2 separate regions of the Homo sapiens genome follow, and region 1 is linked to region 2. The links come from fine-mapping of genetic effects on gene expression. A gene starts in region 2. The other region holds a variant in brackets. All regions are shown on one strand. Distances are from middle to middle.

Region 1 (8,338 bases), 50 kb after region 2:
TTGGGTGGAAGAGGTGTGTGTTCACCAAGCAGCATCATGACTTTTCACTGCTCCACCCTTTACCCAGGCAAGTTGGAAGAACAACTATTTGAGTGTGAGAACAAGAGCACCAGGACAAGAAGCTGGAAAAATAAATAGGAGATATTGCTAGTGGCCTGGTTGCCTTGACTAGAAATTTGCGCTTTGTGTTCATTGTGGAGTAGTTAAAGCTTTTTAGCTTGAATTTAGCAGGGATGTATTGGTTTCCAACGAGTCTTCCTTATATATCTTGTTTGTGGGAATTACTGAAAGAGCCACAGAATTTTCAACACCACATGGAGGCTATCCCAATAATCACAATAACTTAATTATTTATTCTTAAAAGCTCAGAGAAGAATTAATGTAAAAAATTATGGGAACCCTTATACACTGTTGGGGGGAATGCAGATTAGTTCACCCAGTGTGGAAAGCAGTTTGGAGATTTCTCAAAGACCTTAGAACTACCATTCGACCCAGCAATTCCATTACTGGGTATATAACCAAAGGAAAATAGATCATATACCAAAAAGACACATGCACTCTTATGTGTATCACTGTGCTGTTCACAACAGCAAAGACATGGGATCAACCTAGGTGCCCATCAGTGGTGGATTAAATAAAGAAAATGTGGTATATATACACTATGGAATACTGTGTAGTCATGAAAAGAATGAAATCACGTCGTTCATACCAACATGGATGGAGTTGGAAACCATAATCCTAAGCAAACCAATGCAGGTATAGAAAACTAAATATTACATGTTCTCATTAATAAGTGGGATCTAAATATTGAGCACCTATGGATGTAAACATGGGAATAAGATACTGCAGACTAGTAGAGGGAGGAAGGGAGGGAGGGAAGGAAGGAGAGGATGGGGTAAAACACTATCTCTTGGGTACTGTGCTCACTGCCGGGGTGCAATATACCCATGTAACAAACCTGCACATGTACCCCCTGTATCTAAAATAAAAGTTGAAAAAAAAATTATGGAAAAAGCATAGACAGTGAATGAAATTAATCATGACATCATCATCAACAAATGTTTCTTGAATGCAACAAGCTTGCCTGCTTATTCATTTCACCAACCATTTATTATTATGCATAAGGCTTCTGCCCATTAAGAATTCACAGTTGAAGGTTGCAGACATATCTATCAAGAAGTTACATAAGAGACTGAAAAATGTTCCAGCAAAAGGTACAAGTAGTATTCTAAGTGAGTAGTAGAGAGGAAGAGACACTTTTCTATCTAGGAAGTTTTTCTTTAACAGTTTTTCTCTTGGAAATGTCTGAGAAAGTTTTGTGGGGAATATGGGGCTTTTAGGCGCAAAGGATGCTGTTTATTTTGGGTAAGGGGACGTCTTGATAGAAGGGACAGAGGCAGGAACCTTTAGGGCATATTCATCTGGGAAAGGTCATTTAATGTGTATTCTGACTGTCAGGTAGGGAAGTTGAGTTACGAAGGTACTTGGGCCATATTAAGGAATTATTTGAAGGTTATTTTGAGATTTAAGTTACACATAGTATAGTTTTGAACAGATGTGTCTGTGTGAGCTGTTGGTTATCAGTCAAAGAAACTCAAAGTAACTTAAGCAAAAAAAGAAAGGCATAGCTCAAGTAACTGGGATGTTTAGGGGTGGCATACTACAGGCATTGTTGGATTCAGGGGCTCAAACATTGTCAGAAGGCCTCTTTTTTCCTCTCTCTCTCTGTCCTTGCTCTGCCTTCCCTACGTTGAGCTCTGCATAACAGCCCTTTCTCTGTGATCTATGAGACAGTGGCCAGCGGCTGCAGCCCACACCCTCCTAGCTTAGTTCCTTTGGCAGAACTGAACTTCTTAAGATCCCGACATCATCCCAGAGAAAACCGTATATGACCTTGCCATGGCCTGCACATATCCTTGAACTAGTCACCGAGCTAAGGGAATGGTGTGCCCAGAGCAGCTCAGGGGACAGCATGACATCAAGGGCAGGGATGGTTCCTTACAAGAACCAGAACGGAATGTGGGAAAGGGACACGAGGAGGACAGAAACTTTAGGTGCCATGGTTGCAGCACAAGAGGGAGGGTAAGAGAAGACTGGAGCTGTTAGCCCAGGTCAGGAACATGGGTGGAGGAGGAGATTTGTCAGGAAGGATGCAGACTCCATCTTCTGCATGTTGAGTTATAGGTGCTATGGGCCATTCATGTGGCAGTTGGCTGTGAGGGCACAAAGGAGAGGGATAAAGTTAGTGTTGTAGCAGAATAAAGGATTGATGGTAAAGAGAGTGAAGGGAACCAAAGTATTTTATCCTGAAATATACTTTGACATATTTCAAGATGGCTATTCACTGGGCTTGAAATGCAAGAACAGCTGAAAAGCTGTCTTTTGTAGGGGAGATTTGCATCTGTAGGGAATCTGCATTAATACAGCCAGGCTTTCTCTAAGGCCCTCCTTTGTCCTCATCTAGGCAAGATTAACTGAGAGTCTGACACCTATAAAGGTCTGAAAAAAAATTTACCATCCATTCTGTCTGAGGGCTGCTACCCATGTGAGGTTTCATCTGCATCATGAGGCAACCTTTGCTAGCCAGGACTCCTCCCCTTCCCATAACCTGTCCTGTCATCATAACTTGAGGTACCATCATAACCTGTTTTTGGCCATGCTCCTGTCAGGCATTTTAACCAGAGTGATTCCATCTTGAACAGGGGCTGAGTAAAATGAGGCTGACACCTACTGGGCTGCTTTCCCAGGAGGTTAGACATTCTTAGTCACAGGATGAGACAGGAGGTCAGCGCAAGATATAGGTCACAAAGACCGTGCTGATAAAACAGGTTGAGGTAAAGAAGCTGCCAAAACTCACCAAAACCAAGATGGTGACAAAAGTGACCTCTGGTCATCCTCATTGCTCATTATATGCTAATTATAATGCATCAGCATGCTAAAAGACACTCCCACCAGTGCCATGACAGTTTACAAATGCCATGGCAACACCAGGAAGTTACTATTTAGTCTAAAAAGGGGAGGAACTGTGACTTCTTGGATTGCTTGCCCCTTTCCTGGAAAACTCATGAATAATCTACCCCTTATTTAGCATGTAATCAAGAAATAACTATAAGTATACTCAGTTGAGCAGCCCATGCTCCTGCTCTGCCTGTGGAGTAGCCATTTTT[T/A]AATTCTTTACTTCCTTAATAAACTTGCTTTCACTTTACGAATTCACCTCAAATTCTTTCTTGTGTGAGACCCAAGAACCCTCTCCTGGGGTCTGGATCGGGATCCCTTTTCAGTAACACTCCAAGCCCCCATTCTTTCTGTAACCTCAGAAAAAGCTTCACCCATCTGGCCATTTCTTTAAGTTCTTTTGTTTTGTGAGACTTCTGTTCATATTAATATATTTGCTTTTTCTCCTATTAATCTGCCTTTAGTTGATTTTTCATCGAGCTTGGAGAGTGAAGAGGAAGTTTTCCCATGGCTCCTGCAATAGCATGGAATAGGGAAGCTCACTGAGGAGCATCAGAGGTTAGATTAGATTGCATGAAATTGCTGCTTTTTTAGGTCAAAAATAGAGAACCATTGGTGGTTTCATATGGTTCAACCTATTCTATGGATTCCCTTATGGGAATGGCTGTGTTCTTCCTTCAGCAGACACTTGCTTATCCTGTAGGAAATGCCCTGCCTCCCTCCTCTGTTCTTCTTCTCTTTTGGAAAATATGTACTGGGAGCTTTTTAAGTACAGAGCATGTGCTTAGTCCTGGATATGTGGTCATGAACTGGACCTTGCTGGTGTCTAGAGTCTAGACCGGAGTGTTTTGGGGCTAATGGAAAACTCTGAGGTGTGGTGGTGTGGGGCTGCAAAACAAACACAAACAAAAACAAAAAGTAGCCTTTTTTTTTGATGCTGGCTTTCCCCAGATACTAGCAAATCCATCCTAACAGTAAGTAGAGAAACGGAGCTTGATGGAATATTTGTGTTCATTTCAGTGGAAAGAAAATGTTTGCCTTCACTTTCTCAGAACTTTCTTTTGCGGAGAAAACAGCTGATGAACCTGCTGGTAAGAACAAAGAGCCAGACCTCTGTTTGTCTGCAAATCTGGTTTTCACACAGAGCTTCCTGATGAAGTGTGAGGAGCCTCCTCGCAGTGATAGACCAGGGAACAGGGGAGAACCTTTCCCCCTCACACTTGGCATCCCAGCACCTGGCCCCAAGCTCTGTTGCTTGAGAAGATTGTGCTGCTGAAAGCTCATTTCTTTTTTTCCTGTCTAAAGGCAAAACAAGGTAAAATACAATAGCCAGTTGCCTCATATAAACCACCTGCTTAGTAGGAAATGAAGTAAAACTCTGCAGTCCCTATTGCTACTTGAAGAATTTGTGGTTTCCTTTCCTGTCAGTAAACAAAAGCCGTCAGTTAAAAGAGTGGAACATTAATTGTTTACAGGATGTTTGCTGTAACAAAGGAAGGAAAAGTGCCTTTTACAGACTGTTCATTGTGTTGGGGATATTACAACACCAAGTGTCTCTCCTAGAGAAGAGACATTAAGCATAAGATATTTAGTCACAAAACACAGACTGTTTCATTAACAGGACTTTAAAAGACTTATTTTGTAAACTCAAGTTGAGGACTTCATAACGTATCGGCATAAAGAATATAGATGAGAGTAGAAAGCTTCCTTAGAGAAAAAATGAGATCCCAAAATTTTGAAAAATACTGATGCTTCAGAGGCTTTGAGGTTTTTTAAATTGTAGAATATCATGCCTTTTTTTTTTGTAAGAAACATTTATCTTTTATAGTTCAGTAATGTATTTTACCTAGGCTTCCGCACGTTGCCTTTCAGTACAGGCATACTTCGGAGGTTTGCTTATTTCCCAGACAACTGCAATAAAACAAATGTTGCAGTATAGCAAGTCACACAGATTTTTTTTTTTTCCAGTGCATTTAAAAGTTACAGTTACGCTATACTGGAGTTTATTAGGTATGCAGTAGCATTATGTCTAAAAAATGTGCAAACCTTAATTTAAAAATACTTTTTGCTAAAAAATGCAAATGATTATCTGAGCCTTCAGCAAGTCAGTCTTTTTGCGGGTGGAGAATCTTGCCTCAGTGTTGATGGCTGTTGACTGATCAGGGTGGTGGTGGCTGAAGGTTGGGCTGGGTATGGCAATTTCTTAAAATAAGACAACAATGAAGTTTACCACATCAATCGGCTCTTCCTTTCATGAAAGACTTCATGCTGTTTCATAGCATTTGACCCACAGTAGAACTTCAAGACTGGAGTCTCTCCTCTCAAACCCTGCCAAGTTTATGTAATTTCCTAAATCCTTTGCAACAATGTTCATATCATCTTCACCTCCATCTCAAGAAACCAGTTTCTTTGTTCCTCTACAAAAAGCAACTCCTCATCCATTCAAGTTTGATCCTGAGTTTGTAGCAATTTAGTCAGATCTTTAGGCGCCAATTATAATTCTAGTTTTCTTGCTATTTCTTCCTCTATTGAAATGTTAAGCCCCCACCCCAAAGTCATCCTTGAAGGTTGGAGTCAACTTCTTCCAAACTCCTGTTAATTGTTGATATTTTGACCTCCACCCATGAATCGTGAATGTTCTTGATGGCATCTAGAATGGTGATTTTAAAAGGGTTTCGGTTTACTTTGCCCAGATCCACCAGAGGAATTGCTATCTGTGATAGCTATAACATTATGAAAATTACCTCTTAAATAATAAAATTTAAAAGTCAGATTTACTTTTTAATCCATGGGCTGCGGAATGGATGTTGTTAGCAGGCAAGAAACAACATTCATCTCCTTGTACACCTCTGTCAGAGGTCTCGGATAACCAGATGCATTGTCAATGAGCAGTAACATTTTGAAAGGAATCTTTTTTTCTGAGCACTTGGTTTCAATGTGGACTTAAAATATTTAGTAAATAATGCTGTAAACACATGTGCTGTCATCCAGGCTTTGTTGTTCCAATGATAGAGCACGGGCAGAGTAGATTTAGCATAATTCTTAAGGGCCCAAAGATTTTTGGAATGGTAACTAAGCATGAGTTTCAACTTAAAGTCACCAGCTGCATTAACTGCTAACAAGAGAATTAGCCTGTCCTTTAAAGCTTTGAATCCAGGCATTGACTTCCCCTCTCTAGCTGTGAAAGCCCTATAGGACGTCTTCTAATAGAAGGCTGTTTGATTTACATAGAACATTTGCTGTTTAGTGTAGCTCTCCTTGTACCTCACAAACCAGCCTCTGCTACCTGCAGACTTTTCTTCTGCAGCCTCCTCACCTCTCTCAGCCTTCATTGAATTGAAGAGTATTAGGGCCTTTCTCTGAACTAGGCTTTGGCTTAAGGAAATGTGGCTGGTTTCATCTTCTATCCAGAACACTCAAACTTTCCCCGTATCAGCAACGAGATTGTTTTGCTTTCTTATCATTTGTGTGTTCACTGAAGTACCACTTTTAATTTCCTTCAAGAACTTTTCCTTTGTATTCGCGACTTGGCTGTTTGGCGCAAGAGGCTTAGCTTTCGGCCTGTTTTGGCTTTTGACATGTCTTCCCCATTGAGCTTAATTGCTTCTGGTTTTTTATTTAAAGTGAGTTGTTTGACTCTTACTTGAATACGGAGAGGCTGTTGTATGGTTATTAATTGGCCTACGTTCAATATTGTTGTGTCTCAGGGAATCGGGAGGTCTGAGGAGAGAGAGAGAAATGGGGGAGGCTGGTCGGTGGAGCCATCAGAACACAATATTTATGGATTAAATACACTGTTTTATATGAATGTGGCTCATGCCACCCTAGAACAGTTACACTAGTTCCATCCAAGATCGCTGATCACAGGTCACCATAACAAACATAAAAGTAATGACGAAGTTCGAAGTATTGTGAGAATCACAGTGTGACACAGAAACACCAAATGAGCACTTAAAAAATGGTGCCGATAGACTTGCTCCATGCAGGGTTGCCACAAACCTCCAGTCTATAAAAGACACAGTGTCTGCAAAGCACTGTAACATGAGGTTCACCTTATACCTAGTACTGTGTCTGAGTCCCTGACGGTACTAGACGTCCACTGATGTTACGTAGATTGAGACTGTTGTGCAACCATCACCATCATCCATTTTCAGACCTCTTCATCTTGAAAACTCTGTATCTATTTAACCCCATTTCCCCTCACCCCAATCCCTGGCAGCCACCGTTGTACTTTCTGATTTTATGAATTTGACTTACTCTACATACCTCATATAAATGGAATCATACAGTATTTGTCCTTTTTGTGACTGGCTTATTTGCTTAGCGTGGTATCTTCAGGGTTCTTCTATGTTGTAGTTTGTGTGAGACTTTGCTTCCTCTTTAAGGCTGAATAATATTCCACGGCACGTATTTCCCATATGTTGTTTTCTGTATTCATCTAATGGGCGTTTGGGTTGCTTCTACCTTTTGGGCCACTGTGAATAATGTTGCTGAGAACAGGGCTGTGCCAGTTCATCTTCGAGATCCTGCTTTCAGTTCTTTTGGCTGTATGCCCAGAAGTAGAATTGCTGGGTTATATGGTAATGCTGTGTTTAATTTTTTTTTTTAGGTACCCACTATATTATGCATCAGATTTTTAAACTCAGAACTGTCTACATTGGCTACAAAAATGGTCAGTGAGAATTTCTTTCCCCACCCTAATCCTAACCACGGCACAAAATCTTACATTCAGCCGCAGTTGAGGGACTACTGGTAATTTTTCATCTACTGTTTCTGTCCTTCATAAAAATGGAGACAGATTGAAAAAGGAGGGCTTTTTAAAACTAAGACGAGTCATAGCCTTCCCGGTAGGTGACCTTATAGTTTATCGCCTCTCAAAGTGAAAGGAACGCTGTTAATGCTATGCTGGGTTAACACTTGTAAACTGGGACTGTCTCTGGGGTGCCCTCCTTCTTGGGGTTTGTCTTGTCTTTTTTAGGAAGCAGTGCTGGATCTTGGCAGCATTTAGAGAGCCACACTGGCTTCATAAACCCATGTTTATATAGTTTTGTCTGAAGTGTATACTCCACATTGTTGCGTTTTGAGTCCATGCAGTGTCAGGTCTGAGTGTGAGCCCTAGGGCGCTTGGCTGTAGTTGAGTTTGCAGAAATTCTTACGTTGATTATTTTAAAAAATGATGTGTTGAAAGCATGATCTTAGGAGTCCAGATGACTTGAGTTCACATCCTGCGCTTGCTGATTCGCCTGGGGCAAATAACCAGTCTCTTGAGTGCCAGTTTCCTCAACCAGGAAGGCAGAAAAGACCAATTGTTTTTTTCTTTTAATGTGGTGGTGAGTTTGGAAATAACATATATAAAGTGTTTTAGTAGAGTGTCTAGTACGTA
Region 2 (8,338 bases):
GCGTGGATGTGCTGGAAGAAAACTGTAAAAAGAATTAGGCCGGGCGCGGTGGCTCACGCCTGTAATCCCAGCACTTTGGGAGGCCGAGATGGGTGGATCACTTGAGGTCAGGAGTTCCAGACCAGCCTGGCCAACGTGTTGAAACCCCATGTCTACTAAAAATAGAAAAATTATCAGGGCTTGATGGTGCGTGCCTGTAATCCCAGCTACTTGGGAGGCTGAGGCAGGAGAATCACTGGCACCTGGGAGGCGGAGGTTGTAGTGAGGCAAGATCATGCCACCACACTCCAGCCTCGGTGACAAAGCGACTCCATCCCCTGCCAAAAAAAGAAAAAAGAAAAAAAAAAAAGAATTAATCCCTTTAGTTTGTTTCTTTGGGAACCCCTAGAACACGATGCAATTCACAGGAGAAAGAAGAATTTTGAGGGATAGAAAGTGAGGCTTGGGCAACAAGGGGAGGGAAAATCTTGGCCTGGGGGAAGGCGAAAGTGATAAGTTCACACTAGCCTTTAGGCAAATACAAGTTTATAATTCACCATTGATGTTTGTCTTCAAAATTTCAGCAAAATGTATAGCTTTAACATAGAATGATTTTCAGTAAGATGTCCTGAGGCAAAAAGGATGCAGTGATATCTTCATAGGTGCTGCAATTCCACCGTCTGTGCTAAGTTTCAGGCTGTTTGCCTAAAAAGGCAAGAAACAAGAAGGCTGCTGCTAGGAAGACCAGCAAGGAGGGACACACACATTAAATCTAATACTATTTCTGGAATATTTTATTTGGTGAAGAAGGTTCAGAATCATTCCTGAGATGTGTCTCTTGAGGATCTCTTGTGGTCGGCCGTGAGGTGGACACCTCGTGGGTTTTGCTCTCGCCTGTATGTATCACCATTGTTCTGCACAGCAAAGGGGCTCACTCAGGACCTGTTTGTTGAAAGCAGGAACATTCCGATGAAGGCCAGCCTCATGTGACGTGGAGTTCTGGGAAAGTAAGAAACTCCCACGGACCTTCATAAACGTACACAAATATTTACTCTGCACAATCAATTACAGGCATTAAAAAAAATACTGCCAACCTTGGTAGTGGGGCTTAGGATATTTCAATTTTAGTTTGGAAAGCACAAGAAGTGGGATGGGAAGGTGAGAGAGTGAGAATTGTGGCTAACACCGTCATCGAAGAGTGTCTGGTCAGACTTCCTTCCATATATGATCATTATGTACTGGATATTAAGGAACACATCAAAGGGATGGGTTCCTCTTCATCTATTAGACAGTGTACATTTGTAGCTGCAGCAGTTAAGACCCACCTCAATGACAACCCACTGACCAAGGATCTGCTCCGGATTGTAGTGGATTTGTGCCTTAGGGATCAAAATGCTGGAGGAGATGTGGTTCTTCTCCTCAAGGCCCTTATAGACAATGAAACACGCAATAAGGTGAAATGTGATCATGTCCTCCCTAGGCACTCCCAGGAAAAGTTCCTTCACGGCTGCTCCTCCTGCAGGGTTTTGTTGAGTACACAGGAGATAACATTGATACCTCTTGTAGAGTATCTACAACATATGAGGATACACCTGTGAGTTGGTGAGCTCTTGAAAAGCCGAGCCTTATGTCCTGTGCATTTTATATTCCCAGCACCTAGTATGGTCTGGAACATCAGAGGATCTCCATAAATCTGTTTTTTTTTTTTTTTTTTTGAGACGGAGTCTCACTCTGTCACCCAGGCTGGCGTGCAGTGGCATGATCCCGGCTCACTGCAAGCTCCACATCCCGGGTTCACACCATCCTCTTGCCTCAGCCACCCGAGTAGCTGGGACTACAGGTGCCTGCCACCACAGGCGCCTGCCACCACGCCCGGCTAATTTTTTGTATTTTTAGTAGAGACTGGGTTTCACCGTGTTAGCCAGGAAGATCCTGATCTCCTGACCTTGTGATCCTCCCGCCTCAGCCTCCCAAAGTGCTGGGATTACAGGCTTGAGCCACCGCGCCCGGCTTCATAAATGTTTGTTAAATGAATACATGACAATCTTGTAAATGCTGATAATGGGGTGACAATTGGGAAACTCATCAAAACCTGGAGTGCTCAGGAATTGTATTATGTCACAGGATTGCTTCTTGACCTGTTTAGTTATATCTAATCCCACAGATTATACCTATAATTTAAAAAGATACGAAAGATTGTATAATGTGTACATGCTTCAGATCACAGAGAAATATAGTGTGGGAAGGACCGCCTCTATTTACCTTTTAACAGGGCTGTGTTCTAGGAAGTGTTTGTGATAGGGAAGTAGAGATAACACTTTTTCTTCAGGAAGAAGTCTGACTCTAGAAGGGGAGAAACTGAAAGCCCCAATCCAGTCTCAGGGAACCCAGCTCAAAACTCTGACAAAAAAGCCTGCTCAGGAAATTCTACGGTGTGGCTGGAAGGTAAGTTAGAGGCTGCCTCCACCTGCTTTATTATTCCTGCGTATAGATGACTGTTGCTGTCCATTTAGGCAGAGTCAATTCCAGTCTAGCTTAAAAGATTCTTCTGAGACCCTTTAATCTTTCAGCATCTAATTCAAATGTCAAGCAATTTACAATAATAGTTTCAAATAATGCTTCCTCACAGGTGAGTCAACATTTCTAAGAAAGCAGAAAAGTTGGGTATAAAAAGTTCAATTCTTCCTCGTCGGAAAAAAGATGCAAGACATTTCTACCGTGGGCTGAGCGCTGCCTGGAGGGCAGGGAGGAAGGGGTGAGCGGACCGCGCTGGGATGTGGGTGCCTGGAACTGCCAATCTCTCCGTTTTCCCCTTGGCTCCTAAAGGTCTCTTAGCAGCATTTCCTGCACGCTGGCACCCCCTGTCCTCCTAACGTTTTACTGCCTGCGTGTTTCTCTGTGCTTCCCCACCCTCCGACCCACAGGGCCCGGGGCGCCCTCCGGGGGCCGGCACACAGCAGGGTCTCGCTTCCTCGCGCTGTCTTCTTCAGATGGGATCACTTCGACTTGCGGCCGTTTGGGCGTTCGCGGGGCCTCGGCGATTCTGTGGCGTCCTGGGCTGTGTATGTAGCCCCAGCGGCCGAGGCTCACGGATCCGACCGCCCGGCCGCCGCGTCTGTCCCAAGTTGGGAGACGGGAGGGCCGGGTGGGGTCGCGCCTGCGCCAGGGGGCGGCTCAGAACCAGACTCGCGGTTTTTAACTTATTCCTCAGAGGGGCGAAAGCGAGTCTCGACAAGGACGGCGACGGCTCTCTAGAAGCCGGGGTCCAGGTAGGCTGCCCGGCCCTCGAGCTCGCCCAGCGCCGCTCATGATGCGCCCCGCAGCCCCCTCCCCAAGAAGGGCGTCCGGGCCCCTCCTGGACGCGCAGCTCCCGCGCGCCGCGGGGCCTGGGAACAGCGCACCGGCTGCGCCCGGAGCCGGGCGGACGGTGAGACTGACGGCGTCCGCGCCCAATCGTGGGGCGGGGCCGAGGGGGCCTGCAGGCAGCGACCAATGGGAGCCCGCAGAGCGGGCGGGGGGCGGTGCCGCTGGGCGGGCGGGCGGTGGCATCGGGAGCCGGCGCGGCAGACTGGGAGCCCGGGAGGAGCTGGCGGAGCGAGAGGAGGAGGAGGACGGAGGAGGAGCACCGCGCCCCCGCCGGCCGCCCGAGCGCAGGCCGAGAGCTCCAGCCGCAGCCAGCGGGTCCGGGCCGCCTCCGCCGGAGCCCGGCGCGGGGAGAGTCCGGGCCGATGGGCAGCCCCGGGCAGCGGCGGGCGGCGAGGCGGCAGCCCGGGTACGCGCCGCCCGGCGCGCACAGGCTGTAGCAGGTTCCGGCGGACGGCGTTGCGAAGGTTCGTGTCGGGGAATCCGACGGGCAGCGTGGCGAGGGTCGGTTCGGGATGCCTGCGGCCAGGCGGGGACTGTCCCGAAGGGGAAGGGGATGCCCTTCGGGGCGCTTTGGGGGGCTGACGGCGGCGAGGGGTGCGAGGGGCGCGGGGGTGCGAGGGTCGCGGCGCAGGGTCCGGCTTGTAGACGCAGATGCGCCCGCGCTCCCGATCCCCGGCTGGAAGAGGAGCCGCCGCCGCCTGTTCTCTCCAAGTTATCGATCGGCTGAAAGGTTATTCCCGTCTCGGCGACACAGGCACTGAGGAGGGTCTTCTCCAGGTGCCCAGAACTTCGCTCTGACTAACGCTCTCTGGAAGGGCTCGCGGTTGCCCGACGCAGCTTCCCCGGCGCGCCTGGCCAGCTGACGCCGAACTTGCTGCGGGGCTAATTCCCCTTCTAGAGGGGGTGCGCCCGGAGCGCGCGCCCTCACCGGGACGGATCCCTCTTTGTAAGACCGGGAGCCTCCGGCGAGCGCTCTTCTCACTCACCGCGACCTTTCTTCCCACTTTGCCAGCTCCTGGGCCTCTCCGGGTCTTCCCGTGTCAGTGAGGGTAGTTTGCCCACGTCCTGGGAATATCCCTGGGAACACCTACAGATTAATTTTCAGCCGTGCCGCAAACCCAAAGAATCAATTTCGGCTCATCATCTGCAAGAGAGAGCCGAGGCTTCTCGGAAAGAGAGAACAACTTGGCATTACCCCTGTGGGAGATATTTGTCATCATTAACCTGCTTGAGTTAAATTAATTCAGCCCAAGATGACTCTGGCCTGAGTATTGGAAAAAATCAAGTGCATTGGTTACGGAATTGTGCTCACCAAAACATGATTTTGGTCAAAACAAAATTGTAGACATTTTGGATTTTGGTTAGATTGAGACTGGGTTTTGACAAGGATGGCTTTTTTTTAAAAAAAACAAGGAAAAAAACCCTCAAAGAATCTTGGTGATTCTCATGTCTTTGCCCAGTAAGTTCAAAATAGTCGCACAGATTTTTCTTTTCTTTGCCTCTTTTGTCTGCAGTCTCCATTCTAAACGTTAACACTAGATGGCTTTCTTATGACAGACATTTAGTAAACTGCCCATTTGAGTCGCGTTTGTGTGCAGCCTAGGTTGTAATTTTTCTAGTGTTACAATTAGTAATTGAAGAAAAAAGATCTCCCAAACTGTTGCTTTTTATTGCTTTCCTAGAAAACCTACACATACCGATATTTTTGCGGATATTGAGAGGTGGCCTATTATTTTTGGCATTCCCAAAGTTGAATTTCAAGAGACAACTTGGTTACTGTATTTAGTTACATCATTTAAGAATGCTTGTTTCATGTTTGGACTTATTTAAAGAATTCAGAGTTCTGTTAGTTTTGTCATTCTGTTTAGACAATATTTCCAGTTAAAAGATGTTTACCGCTTGATTGAATTTCACTGCTTGATTCAGAGTTATAAGAGAGTATTATTCATGAGAAAAATGCAGTCTTTCTTAAGTTTTGGGTATAAATCACATTGATTCTTCCTAAAAGATTCCATTGATCCATTTTGGGAAGAGATGCAGTTAAAGTATCTGCATGATTCATACCAGGGATTGTGTTAGGGACATCTCCCCAGAGGATGTTTGATTTTTTCATTTCTAAGCACAAGCCCTTTTATGACAAGCACAATAGCCCGTAGTTTCAGCAGTAACAGCAGCAGCAGCAGCAGCAGGCTCCCAGTTATGTTTTTAAGCACTTTTATTCTAAAGCAAGATCACGGCAGCCTGTCCAAATCTTGCCTAGGTAGGCAAACTTATTTATACGCTGAGTAAATATCTTGAAATTATCTTTGTAGCTATCATTTATTGTGTGCCTTGCCCAGCTTAAAATAAGACATACTGAATTTGTTCTAAATTAGAGTGTATTCATAAATAGCTGAAGGAAAAAGAAGAAAAACTACAGAGCAAACATCTGGGAAGTAGGAAATGAAATCAGAAACAGCTTTTATCAGTACCCACATTCTACCTATAGATGGGGTGAAATGAACCTGGATAAGAAGCAGTGTAAGCACTTGATCCGGAAAAGCAAGAGCTAGATCACAGGTATGGGGGTGGAGCTTCTGGCTTTTAGTATGGGCCACAGATTTTACCCAGTTGCTTTAAGTATATGTTTTTCATTAGATGCTTTTTATGTTTTGAAATCATAGATTTTCTCAAAGAGCTTTAATTGTATGGAATGTAACTTTTAGTCTAATAAGGGAATTATCAGATCATGATTTGGCTTCTATGATGCTTACTGTAGTTAAAGCTGTGTAATATGGATTTGGAAGGTGTTTTTTTTTTTCTCCCCCTCACCCCGCAAGACTGGGATGGTGTTTTGAAGGGTTCCTTGATACCTGAGCTTAGTAAACACTTGTCCACCTTGGGGATCTTTTTACCTGAGGCAAAGGAGAAGCGGGTTATTATTTTGAAATTAGCAGTCTATTTCTGAAAGTAAGGAAATACTAGCTACCCTGAAAAACCAGTTGTTTGGTAATTGAAACTGGTTTAAAAGCACTGTGTTTGGGCATCGAAACTAGTTTAAAGGGATTGTGTTTCCTGCATACTTTGCAAAGAACTATGTGTTTATGTGGATACAGCCCCTTGCCCCCAACCATAATTGGTAAATGCAGCGTTATTTTTTGAGATTGAGGAAGGCATTGAGTTTTTGAACTTCTGATCAATTTATGGTGGTAGTTGAGGATTACAAATCCTTTTAAAGACACACTGAATTTGAAGAAAATTTAGACTAGGGTATTGTTAATTGAAAAGCTGCTTTTTTTTTTCTTTCTGTTTTGAACTTCAATGAAATACAAAGTACAGTCCTAGAGAATAGTGAACCATGTTCTAGGTTTTCTACTTCTGTTAATGTGCCTAATTCATTTGCAGAGTGAGAGTAGAAAAAGCTTTAGGCACAGACAGGAACCTTGAGCTTCCTGCCTCTACCACCTGTCACAAATGAATTTGGATGAAACTATTTTCATGATCCCTTTCAGCACCAAAATTTGGGGTTTCTTTAAGGTTTAAGACGAACGCATTAGAGTAATGAAAATGCCTGTCTGACTGGGATGTTTATATTTTTCATGATTATGTCATTTCTTTGCCTTGGCCTATAGTAAGTTTGTATGTGAATGCTTTGCATGAGGGTCATAGCTACTTGGTTTACCTTGAAATCAATGATTCAGAAATTGCTTTTTGTGTTCCAGTTGCATGTAGCTGTGACTCCTTTTAAAAGTGTGGTAACAATGTGGTAGGAATTTAAAAGCTTCCCAACTTTAGACATAGATTATTTTGATCCTTTCTGAACTGGATTCATAAACTTTGGTTCCAAAGAACAGCAGCTGTAGAAGGGAGCCAGATCTTGACTCACTGTTGAGGTTCTGCTTCTTGAGAGATTTCATATTTAGTGCAACCCAATTCCTTGGTTCGTTCTTCTCCCCCAGTACTAGATAGCCAAGTTGGGTGGTAGGAAGGAAGAAAATATGCAGCAAGTCGAGTCTAGTTGTCATGCTCCTTTGGGCCAGAAAGGACCTTAAAGATTGTCTCGTCATGTTGTTCCTATACCTTTTGTTTTCGTCTACCTGTAAAATGAAAAAAAAAAAAAAAAGCAAATATTAGGGATTGTCAGATATGTCAGCATTTAATGTTGCTACATAAGTGTGTTTAAAATTGACAACAGCAGTTACTACCTATTGTCAATGCATTTCGTCAAAATCCTTTTGATGTACCAAAAAAGAGAAAAGGTGGGGAAAGGGGGAAGAATATGTATGCTGTCAGACTTAAAGGAGAGTTCTTCCTATCCAGAGAGGAGCTGTGTTAAAATTACCCCACTCGTGGATTTATATCTATCCCCACACAGACACTTTTTTCTTTTGCATGGGTCAATGAAAAATTCACTAAGGACCGGGGTTTAGAAATCACTGAGTAGCTCAACTAACCCTTCTTTGATATTTGGATCCTTTTATATAATCTCTGTAAGTGGTCTTCCGGTAATACCTGAACATTGCAAGTAACGGGTGGTGATTTCCACCTTTTAATGGTTTTGAGTACTAGAAAGTTTTTTGGCCTATAGAATTGAAATCTGATTCTGCTTGTTTATTCAAATTCTACTGCCTTGGTGGCCTACAGAACAAATCCTTCAGTCTCTGTCAGAGTTGGGCTCTTGGTGTAACGTGACCCGTGAACATGACCTGTGTAGAGTACAGCAGGAGTGTCTTGTCATAGGTTGCATGTTGCTTGCACTGATGTAGTCCAAGTTTGCATTTACTTTTCTGGTGGCCAGACTCAACGAGTTTCCTTTTCGCTAAAACCTGCCGAGCCGTTAATCACATGCTGCCATTGAACCTCGTCTTTCCATCTTGCGCTGATGTCATTGCAAAACCTAACATTTATTGCGCTGTGGTTTTGCTTTATTTTAGCTGATTCTTTCCATCATGCTTTTTAGAATTTGATTATATTATTTGGCACCTTTACCTGTCCTCCCAAAGAAATGCTGTCT

Evidence for each region. PIP is the estimated chance that this variant, and not a neighbour inherited with it, causes the effect.
Region 1: its variant is fine-mapped to the expression of SIPA1L2 in whole blood (INTERVAL, PIP above 0.99).

What each region holds. Positions count from the first base shown.
Region 1 is chr1:232,574,842-232,583,179 of GRCh38, reverse strand. The region is part of intron 1 of SIPA1L2 (signal induced proliferation associated 1 like 2); the gene reads left to right. Among named protein-coding and RNA genes, the nearest start is that of SIPA1L2, 51 kb to the left of the region's middle. The variant T/A (reference allele first, on the strand shown) is at 3,168.
Region 2 is chr1:232,625,340-232,633,677 of GRCh38, reverse strand. SIPA1L2 (signal induced proliferation associated 1 like 2) reads left to right here and starts at 3,545. Exons shown (of 23, transcript NM_020808.5): 1 at 3,545-3,809. It overlaps LOC124904551 (a long non-coding RNA gene), which reads right to left and starts at 3,096. Exons shown (of 2, transcript XR_007066943.1): 1 at 2,242-3,096; 2 at 751-921. RefSeq lists silencers at 3,128-3,607, 3,668-3,767.